3 linked regions of the Homo sapiens genome follow. The protein of the gene in region 2 purifies or fractionates together with the protein of the main gene of each other region. This does not show direct contact. Each region holds a gene or a part of one and is shown on either strand. Other genes may lie near its edges.

Region 1 (3,727 bases), on a different chromosome or scaffold from region 2:
CCATCCTGGCTAACATGGTGAAACCCCGTCTCTACTAAAAATACAAAAAATTAGCCGGGCGTGGTGGTGGGTGCCTGTAGTCTCAGCTACTCGGGAGGCAGAGGCAGGAGAATGGCGTGAACCCGGGAGGCGGAGCTTGCACTGAGCCGAGATGGCGCCACTGCACTCCAGCCTGGGCCACAGAGCAAGACTCCATCTCAAAAAGAAAAAAAAAAAATTCTAATCAGAGAGCTGGGAGGAGGGCTGAAGATGAGAAAGCTGTAACTTTTTTTATTTGGATAAAACATGCTGTTAGTACAAGTTTCCCAAAACCAAGGGGAAAATGATGAGTGCCTGCTTTAAAATTATTAAAGGAAATTCTAAGCAGTCAATGAAGACAGTTATGTTCCAAATACAAGTTTTGATTATGTGATGCTCTTGCAGTTTGAGAATTTTCTGAGGTATTTAATAAGGCCAATTATAGGTATGTACGTTCATACAGAGAAGATGTGTATACCATGTTGGAAAAGAAGATGAGAAGAAGACAGAAAGCAAAATTGGCTAATAAGAAATGATAAATACACACACAGGTAAAATCAAAAAATGAATCTTTGAAGATTATTTCCAATGCCATTTTAAAATGCTTTTTACAACCATTGATATGCTGAACATACGCAATTAAACTCAGAAGTGATTTATTTTAACCAACAACCCTCTATACACACACCCCAAAAAAGGAAAAGAAAAACTAACAGATCTCAAAGTTCTAGGAAATCAGATATAGTACTTGTAGAGTAATAAATAATAAAAATAAAAACAATATATTTTAACATATAAAATTTTTAAGAAATGATAAAACATAAAGCTAAAACTCCATTTTGAAATAAAATTATCTTGAGAGAATACAGAATTTCTAAAAGTTCTATATATGAATAATTCATGAACATCTTGAATGTACCCTGCTCTTCTAACCTAGGAATTCCACTACTATGTCCCCGGAGTTGCAATTACCTTCCACAGTGAACCACAACAGCAACAAGGTCGTACATTCTGTCTGGATTGGTGGCATCACCTGAAGTGTTAAACAGACGAAGTTCTAAAGGAAAAACTACCCGGTAAGAGAGTTTTGTATATCGATGAAGTTGATCCATATATTTAAATCTCTTCAGGTGTAGAGCTAGAATCATGGGCAGTTTTTTAACTTTCATCCTATTAAAAATAAAAATGAAAACAAAATTTCATAAAAGATATCCACCATGTCCTTGAATTATCAAACTTTACGATATCCAATGAACAGATAGACAATGGTCAGTTTTAATAGCCCAGCAATGCCCAGTTTTGCACATTTCTATCAATTATTTTTATACTGACAAAACAACATTCTGAACATCTTAATATGACCCCACCCTACCCATCATTGTCACACCACATAATTTGACACAGCACTCAATATGGCTCCAAAACAGATGGAATGGCGTTAGTCCTTGGTTAAGGAATCTGTATTTTTCAAACACACGTCTCTTATAATAAGGCTAAATGCACGGGGTGCTCAAGAGTGGTAGAGGGAAGGCCAGGCGCGGTGGCTCACGCCTGTAATCCCAACACTTTGGGAGGCCGAGGCAGGTGGATCACCTGAGGTCATGAGTTCAAGACCAGCCTGGCTAACATGGTGAAACCCTGTCTCTACTAAAAATACAAAAAATAGCCGGGCATAGTGGCAGGCGCCCATAGTCCCAGCTACTCGGGAAGCTGGGGCAGGAGAATCGCTTGAACCCAGGAGGCGGAGGTTGCAGTGAGCTGAGATCACGCCACTGCACTCCAGCCTGGGTGACAGAGCAAGGCTCCGTCTCAAAAAAAAAAAAAAAAAAGAGTGGTAGAGGGAAAACAAGTTTCTTGAAACTGACAATTCCTTTGGACTTGGGTAGACTGAAATCTATTTTTTCTATCAATCTATATGATGCAGGTACAGACTGACAATAGGAGACTAAAACAATAAAAGCACTAAAGACCAATCAAGGTGCTTGTCAGAGACAAGAAATAACTCCATATTAAGAAAAATGACAATGTATATCCTAGAAAGGGAGTAAAATAACCTGGAAACTTAGGAGTTAAGTTTTTAACTGTGAAACACAGGCTGTTCTTCATGTTCTAAACAATCTTTATTATGCCTTTAAATGCCATTTCTCCCTGAGAGTGCCTTTGTACTCCTACTTCACCTAAAAATCTATTCTTCTTTTAATGGCTCAGCTCAAATGTCACACCCTCTGGCACAAATACACCTGCTCTCTTCAATCCTCCATCAGCACCTTACAGGTTCACTTTATATATGTCAAGCTTATTACATGGTAACAATTTTAGGTGATTATGGTTCTTTTCTTCTAGGCCCTGAACTCTTGGCAGCTAGAAAGCATTCCCTTCATTTTTATTTCCCCACTATCTAGCAACATGCCTGACATATGATAGATGCCAAATGCTGCAGAACTGAATTTTAAATGGGTCTGGTGAAGCAAAATACTCCTCACAATTTAAAGAAGTGATATATGGTAAGCCACTGCCTCTAATAAGTGAAAAAAAAAATCATTTTATAACATTATACTAAATCTGCATTCTACACTTCTTAAATATGGTGGATAGCTTATTATTCCTAAATTACTTACTAGTGAATGAACTTGGCCTTTTGGAAACATTAGCCAAAGTAAAGGTAAACACCTAGTCACTCCTAGAAAGCAATCCACCAATATAAATTAGGAGCCTTTATGGCCTTTGTCTCAGTAATCCTATTTCTGGAAATACAATTAAATGTATAATCTCAAAAACATCCCTTATGAGAATAATCTCCTATTAGAGTTCTTTTACATTGTAAAAAATCCCAACTATTCAGCAACAGGAAATGTGGAAATAAATTAGAATTCAAACATAACCGAGTGTTGTACAACTTAAATAAAACAATGCTGATGAAAGTTTCTAGGTGACATAAGAAAATACTTAAGAAGTCAGGATATAAAATTATACATAAAATATAATTCAACTATGAAACATCAGACCTTTTATTAAACCCACATAGAGTTACTGAAAAGAAATCTTTACAAAACAACAAGGTATCCTTTGAGAATTTCCAATGGATGGTAGATGCAAAAGAAGAATTTTCTGAGCATAAAATGAGTGTCAGTGCACTATTAATAAATGGCAGTCAGGTAAGATTAGGAGGAGGAAAGAGAATGAACATGGCCCGATGGTTAGGGAAAATGTGCTTTTAGAAATTACACAAGGGGAGGAGTCCAAATGCAGAAAAGAGAAAATATCTCAATAATAGCAGATACAATATGTTTAATAAGATAACACATGAAGAATATGAATCCTATTTGCCAAAGATCCTCCCAGAGGAGAAGTGCTGGCTACCACAAAGAAACCAACTACCCATGGAATTGTCAAGCAAAAATATGTGTGGAGCCATATTTTAAAGATGATGAGAGACTAGCTTACAAAATTTCCCTCATATTGAAATGGCTCCAAAAAAAAGCAGAAAACTGCTTGAACATACGTGTAAGGAGTCTGAAACTCATTATGTAGATTTTGCAGCAGAAGGAAGAAAAAAGAAGTTGATTTCCTGCTCAAAACACTAAGGTCACCAAAACACCAAAGAATTTATAGGATTCTGGCTTTCCTTCCATTCAAACTTGTGGGGAGGGAGGTTACATTAGGGAGGTCTTGATCACTGTCATTGTTTTAAAAAAAAAAGTGGTCTTAG
Region 2 (3,827 bases):
CATATTAACCTTGCCATGAGGATAGGGTCTGACATGTCCCCTCAACCACCTGTCTAACAAACAGTAGGGTTTCTGAGTGATGAGGGTGGTGGTGGTAAAGAGAGGTCTTTTGGAAGAGGAACAGGTCTTTTGTGTGCTGACAGGAAAGCTGTGTCCACCACCAGTGTTCTGGAGATCCCTGTTTATTAGAAACCAGAGAGTGGAGCTGGCAATGGTCTGGGATATGTTCACTCAGCAGGGAGCTGCCCAAGTAGCAGTACTTGGGAATAGCCAGTAGCAGGCAGCAATAGGTGACCAGTCTCAGGAAAAGTAATGGGGTCCCATAATTCACACAGACCAACTTGCCCCCTGCTGTTCTCCCTTGACTTCATTAATGCCCAGCAATTGTCCACAGGCCATGCACCTGTACTGTCAGATGCAGAGCAGGGTGAGCTGAATAGGTTCTTAGACACAGCTAGAAATCCAAGTAGGAGGAGCCAGACCAGAGGTCCTGGGAACAAACCGAGTCCAAACAAAGGTAAATACAGTGTAACCTACAGCATCATTCGCTTCGCTTAGAAGGATGTGACCCATCGGCTGGGAGCATGTGATGTTAATGCAGAATAGCAAGACGACCAGGTGAAAGGGGAGCAGCACAGCCACCAAGGTCTCAATCTTCAGGTTGAGAGAACGGAAAGTTTAAACAGAGGGTACAGGAAAGTCAGAACAAAAAAAGTAAAGGGCATACCTAATGCTGTTGCCCAAGCTCAGGTCCAGCTGGTGGTGGCAGGCAACCTTCTGCAGGAGTAATTCCAAAGGCAAAGGTTAACCACACTGGAACCCAAAGGGCCTGGGGATCTCCACTGGCTCCCTTACCAGGCGACGTCTAGCTCTATGGGCGTCTTCACCCAACAGGTAGTACTGCAGTGGATTTGACCAGAGGTCCTCTTTAATAATCTGAGCAATCCTGTCGGACTCTGGAAGGCTGTGGTCTGAAAACCAGGTGAAGAAGCTGCAGATGACATGTCGGTTCCTATGAATGAAGGACTGGGGTCCATGGCCCCGGCGCCACATGATTAGAGTGGAAAAAGACACCACTTGGCCGAAGGATCTGACCTCATACACCTTTACAATCAGCTTGTTTCTGAAGTAAGGGTTTCTTTGAAAGAAGAACTTAAACTTGCAGCCTGTCCTAGGGTGTCTGAGCTCCTTCACTTCCAAATTGGTTAAGTAGCTTAACATCTCGGCATCTTGGCCTCTAATCATGGCAGACAGCTGTGGGTGGTGGCGGAAAGCAGTGACCCAGAAGCCCGGGATATTGCGAATGATGTCATTCCTCTGCTCCAGGTAGTATTCATGAATCTGCCCAAACCTGCGCTCCACCTGCAGGAGCGCCCTGTCAGCCTCTGCATTCACGGAGTCCAGTTCCAGCTGGATGGACTCCAGGGGGTTCAGGTGGAGACCCACGTTCAGGGGCCCGGGCCCGGGCCCAGGCCCTGCCTCCCTGTTTACCTCATCTATTGCTCTGTTTTCTTCCGCCACGTCCATTTCTTCGCCTCCTGGCTTCTCATCCACTGGGGCTGAGAACATGGCACACTCCTCAGGCTTCACGTCCTCGGCCTTCCCCTCTGCAATCACTTCAGACTCCGACCTCCCTGCCCCACAGGTTTCTAGAGCCTTCTCCCCACCTAGGCCGTGCGTCTCTTCACCCGGAAAGCCATTTTTGAGGCTGCCGTCAGTTGTCAGCGAGGCAGAGGCCGCTTCTAGGCCCTCCGCGGGTGGTGGAGTCACTTCCTGCCCCGCTTTGATGGCTCCATGACTGCGACCCGCATCGACCAAGATGTGGAAAGTATGGCCACCATCTGCGGGATCCTGGGGCGCGACCCCCTCCTCTGGAAGCCGGGGCGGTGGGAACACGATTGGCTCCAAGCGGCCATCAAACATATCTGCCATTACCTCTGTCGCCTTGCTCTTTTCTCGGGACCTCTGGCCCTGGTGCGGGTCTTCCAGAGCATAGTCGAGAGTAGCGGGGCTGTGAGGACTCTCCGGGAGGCTCATGTTGGTAGCGGCCAGGGCAGCAGTGGGTAGAGGCCAGGCCAGAGGTAGGTAGCGTCAACGTTCCTCACACAAAATGGCGAGTAAACACCTCGCCCATTTGCGCCGCCCACTCTTCAGTCTCGCGACACCCACCCCTCAGTCTCGCGACACTCACTCCTCAGTCTCGCGAGTCTGTGGTGGTGTCTTTACGTCTTTGTTATTTTAGCCATCGTGCTGGATGAGTAATGATATTACATGGTGGTTTTAATTTGCATTTAGCCAAAGTCTAATGAGCTGAGAACCTTCTCATGTGTTTGTTGGCCACTAGGATATTCTCTCTTGTGCAGTATCCGAGGCTTCTCCCTATTTCTCTACTGGGCTGACGTTATTTTTCATATGGATTTGTAGGAAGCCTTTGTACATGCTAGATACTAGTCAGTCATTCTTCCAGTATAGGTATTACAAATATTTCTCTTCCAGTATAGGTATTACAAATATTTCCTCCCACTCTGTGGGGTTACTTTTCTTTTGGACTCGTAGTTTCGCTGTCGCCGAGGCTGGAGTACAATGGCATGATCTCAGCTCACTGAAGCTGCCGCCTCCCAAGTTCAAGCGATTCTCCTGCTTCAGCCTCCCAAGTAGCCGGGATTACAGGCGCCCACCACCATGCCCGGTTTTTTTGTTTGTTTGTTTTGTTTTGTTTTGTTTTGTATTTTTAGTCAAGACATGGTTTTGCCATGTTGGCCAGGCTGGTCTGAACTCCTGGCCTCAGGTGATCCGCCCATCTTGGCCTCCCAAAGTGCTGGGATTACAGGCATGAGCAACCGTACCTGGCCTACTTTTTCACCATCTTAATGGTACCTTTTGAAGAACAAAAGTTTTTCATCTTAATATGTGCCAATTTGTCATTTTCCCCTTTACCTTAGTGTTTTTCTGCTCTGTTTAAGAAATCTTACCTCTCACCTGGGCACAGTGCCTCACACCTGTAATCCTAGCACTTTGAGAGGCGGAGACGGGAGGATCAGTTGAGCCTAGGAGTTGGAGACCAGCCTGGGCAACACAGCAAGACCCCATCTCTATTTTTAAAAAGAAGAAAAAAAGAGGAATCTTATCTCACCAAGATTGTTCAAATTTATATATGCCATCCATCTGGAATTGATTTTTATGAGTGGGGTCACAATTTCTTTTTTTCCATATGAATATCTAATTGACCCAGCACTGTTTATTGAAAAGACAATTCTTTCCCCATGCATAGGTTTTTAAATGTTTCTGTCAGAAGTGACATAAATCATTGGCTACAGCTAGTCAGTTGGCCTTGTCTAACTTTAATAGGACAGGGAGGTGTAATCTTCTCTTGAGCCTGGAAGGAGGAAACTGGAAATATTGGCAAGTGCTGTATCACTCATCATGAAAAATAATTTGAGAAATATATAAAAGACCAATAGAATTAGGCCAAAGGACATAGAGAAAAGGTAATAATAAACAGGAGAAATTTATGTAAGACAATACAGAGCATTAACCAAAGATTAATAATAAAAGGAGAGAGAAAATAAGCAATATTTGGAGAGAAAATTATAGTCACATTGATGGTTTAAATAAATATAAGACAGGATGTTAGACAGCTTTATGCCAATACATTTTCAAACTTAGATGAAATATATGGCTTCATAGAAATGTATAACTTATCAACACGGACTGAAATGCAATAGAAAATCTAAATAGACCTAGAGACAATAAACAAATGGAATCAGTAGCTTAAAAAAATGTTTCCACAAAAATAGCATGAGGTTCAAATGATTTTGAGGCGACTG
Region 3 (3,600 bases), on a different chromosome or scaffold from region 2:
GCTGTCATCCAGGCTTTGTTGTTCTACTTACAGAGCACAGGCAGATTATATTTAGCGTAATTCTTAAGAGACCTAAGATTTTTATAATAGAATGGTAAACAAGCACTGGCTTCAATCCAAAGTCACTAGCTGCATTAGCCTCTAACAAAAGAGTGAGCTTGGCCTTTGAGGCCAGACATTGACCTCTCTAGCTATGAAAGTCCTTGATGGCGTCTTCTTCCAATAGAAGGCTGTTTTGTCTACATTGACTACTTGCTGTTCAGTGGCCACCTTCATCAACGATCTTACCTAGATCTTGGGGATAACTTGCTGCAGCTTCTCCATCAGCATTTGCTGCCTCATCTTACACTTTCATGTTCTGGAGACGGCTTCTTTCCTTAAACCTCATGAAATAATCTCTTCTAGCTTCAAACTTCTATAGCTTCCTCACCTCTCTCAGTCATCATAGAATAGAAGAGAATCAGGGCCTTGCTTTGGATTCGGTTTTGGGTTTAGGGGATGCTGTAGCCGGTTTTATTTTCTATCCAAACCACTAAAATTTTCTCCAAATCAGCAATAAACTGTTTCGCTTTCATATCATTCATGTGTTCATTAGAGTAAAATGTTTAATTTCCTTCAGTAACTTTTCCTTTGCATTCACAAACTGGCTAACTTTTTGGTGCAAACTTTCAGCCTAGCTTTCAGCCTATCTTGCCTTTTGACATCCCTTCCTCACTAAGCTTAACCATTTCTAGCTTTTGAGTTAAAGTGAGAGATGTGCGACTCTTTCTTTCACTTGAACACTTAGAGGCCCATTGTAGGGTTATTAATTGACCTAATTTCAACACTGTTGTGTCTCAGGGAATAGAGACCCAAGGAAAGGGAGAGAGAAGGAAGAACGGCCTGTCAGTGGATTAGTCTGAACACACACAACATTTATCAATTACGTTTGTATCTTATATGGGCACAGCTCATGGCGCCCCAAAACAATTACAATACAAGGAACACTCATCACACGTCACCCTTGTAGCAGAGCACATCTCCCTATGATCTAGGTACGAGCATTGTACCTAGGATGGACGCGTTCGTCCTCTTACCTTCGGGAACGCCCTACTCTGTCTACGGAGTAAAGTACTTAATAAACTTGCTTTTGCTTTGCTATGCGGACTCACCCTGAATTCTTTCCTGTGCAAGATCCAAGAACCCTCTCTTGGGGTCTGGATCGAGACCCCTTTCCGGTAACGAAACTACACTAAGAATACAAGAAAACTTACGTTACTGTGCGGGAGCTGACAAAGTCTCTCGCCGGAGGGAGCACACAGAATTTCACCTTCTCCGGCCTTTTCCCAAGCTGGCAGGAGTAAAGCTGTAAGAGGAGGTGCCAGCGCCCCAAGCCAGCTCTCCCGCCGGCACTGCTGCGGTCCGCGAGGCAGCCAATCAGGTAGCTGAGTTTGCCATAGGGGCGGGACTTCCTCCCCAGCGCGCACGAGTACGTGCGTGGAGGTCCCGCCCCGGAACTGCAGTTGCTGCTGCAGCTGAGGTACAGCGGCGGTTTCTGAGGTTCTTCACTCGCGACTGACGGAGCTGCGGTGGCGTCTCCACACGGTGAGTACCAAAACGAGCGGGGTTGGAGCCGACTCTGGAGAGGGGCTGAGGCCAGGAACCCGGGTTCCTATCGCGGGTCGCTCTGGGCCGGTGGGTTCCCGGGTCCAGAGAGGGCGGCCGCCGGCCCAAGCCGTCCAACCGAGCTGCGTGCCACGGTCCCCGCGCCTTGGGCTCCTTGTCCGGTCATCAGAGCCTGACGGCCTTGGCTTCTCGGCTTCTCGGTTTCTCGGTTTCGTGCGCGCGTTCGTGCCTGAGACAAAGCGAGAGGGCCGCGCGGGACCGGCGTCACGAGGAGACAGAGGCCCTTCTACTCTGCCTGGCGCTCTCCGTGTCCTCGCCCGGTTCGCGTGGCACCCCTCGCCCTCTCCTTGTTGAACCCCGCGTGTTTCTTTGTGTTTTTTTTTGTTTGTTTTTTGTTTTTTTGCCGTGGCGCAGCGGGTCCGGCGGGCACTGTGTGCGAACGTGCTCTCCTCGCCGGGCGCCATGCTCAGCGGTTTTTTTTGACGTGCGTCACTTTTTCGTAGTGGCGTATAAGGATTCTGTGGGACAGATGTCCTCGTTTTTCCCATTGTGCAGACTGGGAAATAAGAGACTCAGAGATTAATACGTCCACCGCAGAGCCACAGCTGACAAGTGGTGGATCTGGATTTGAACCAAAGTTTACCTTGGTCTTTTTCACGGAATCTGTTATCTTTCTTGGCCTTTCTGAAAAGGAAAAACCTGGATCGAGTTCCACCCAAACGAGTTGGGCCTAAATGGCCATTAAGCCACTTAAAATATGATGAAGAAACTGGATGGGTTTTAAGACGCTTGGCAAAGGAAAGGATGGTGGAGCAGGCATTTGCTCTCTCAGGCAAGGCTTGAGAAGGAAGCAAGCGCAGTACGCTTTTAATAAAGCTCACCCCTCCTGCCCCCACAAGAAAAACCCCTGAGATTCTTACTCTGCCTTCAGAACGACTTAGGTGTGGCAGGTTTCATCCTCCGTGCTTTACATAATTTTCTTTATTTACATAAAATGTACAACTTAGATATTGTTAGGTACCCTCCCCCCTTTTTATAGATGAGAGCACTGAAGTTCAGAGAGGAGTGGGTGGCACTATCCAAGGTCACACAGGCAGTAAGTGTTGGATTTGGAATTCAAACCAGGTCTAGCTCATATGTCTTTGTTCCATCACATGTGTACCCTGTGTTCCAGGCAAAGCTGTCTGTTCTGTGGTATTCTTTGTTCTTCTCTAGGTGGGAGCAACTGTGTGATAGCCATCTTTGTATCCTCAGTTCTTTGTAGGGCCTAGTTGCTTAGAAAATATTTGTTACATCAGAACCCTCTGCTTCTCAGACACCAACCTAATAGAACATGTATCTCCTTTTCAGCAACCATGAAGTTGAAGGACACAAAATCAAGGCCAAAGCAGTCAAGCTGTGGCAAATTTCAGACAAAGGGAATCAAAGTTGTGGGAAAATGGAAGGAAGTGAAGATTGACCCAAATATGTTTGCAGATGGACAGATGGATGACTTGGTGTGCTTTGAGGAATTGACAGATTACCAGTTGGTCTCCCCTGCCAAGAATCCCTCCAGTCTCTTCTCAAAGGAAGCACCCAAGAGAAAGGCACAAGCTGTTTCAGAAGAAGAGGAGGAGGAGGAGGGAAAGTCTAGCTCACCAAAGAAAAAGATCAAGTTGAAGAAAAGTAAAAATGTAGCAACTGAAGGAACCAGTACCCAGAAAGAATTTGAAGTGAAAGATCCTGAGCTGGAGGCCCAGGGAGATGACATGGTTTGTGATGATCCGGAGGCTGGGGAGATGACATCAGAAAACCTGGTCCAAACTGCTCCAAAAAAGAAGAAAAATAAAGGGAAAAAAGGGTTGGAGCCTTCTCAGAGCACTGCTGCCAAGGTGCCCAAAAAAGCGAAGACATGGATTCCTGAAGTTCATGATCAGAAAGCAGATGTGTCAGCTTGGAAGGACCTGTTTGTTCCCAGGCCGGTTCTCCGAGCACTCAGCTTTCTAGGCTTCTCTG

Evidence for each region.
Region 1: the proteins of TSPYL6 (region 2) and USP12 purify together in Homo sapiens (co-immunoprecipitation; 3 studies listed by BioGRID and IntAct, with this or other methods). This does not show direct contact.
Region 3: the proteins of TSPYL6 (region 2) and DDX24 purify together in Homo sapiens (affinity purification with mass spectrometry; 3 studies listed by BioGRID and IntAct, with this or other methods). This does not show direct contact.

Annotation. Positions count from the first base shown.
Region 1 is NC_000013.11:27,074,201-27,077,927, forward strand, and holds part of USP12 (ubiquitin carboxyl-terminal hydrolase 12), read right to left. Parts: intron 1,189-3,727; coding exon 991-1,188; intron 1-990. UniProt on the Homo sapiens protein: Deubiquitinating enzyme that plays various roles in the regulation of the immune response and inflammation.
Region 2 is NC_000002.12:54,254,115-54,257,941, forward strand, and holds the start of TSPYL6 (testis-specific Y-encoded-like protein 6), read right to left. Parts: upstream 2,116-3,827; 5' UTR 2,038-2,115; coding exon 805-2,037; 3' UTR 1-804.
Region 3 is NC_000014.9:94,079,103-94,082,702, reverse strand, and holds the start of DDX24 (ATP-dependent RNA helicase DDX24), read left to right. Parts: upstream 1-1,500; 5' UTR 1,501-1,584; intron 1,585-2,955; 5' UTR 2,956-2,960; coding exon 2,961-3,600. UniProt on the Homo sapiens protein: ATP-dependent RNA helicase that plays a role in various aspects of RNA metabolism including pre-mRNA splicing and is thereby involved in different biological processes such as cell cycle regulation or innate immunity.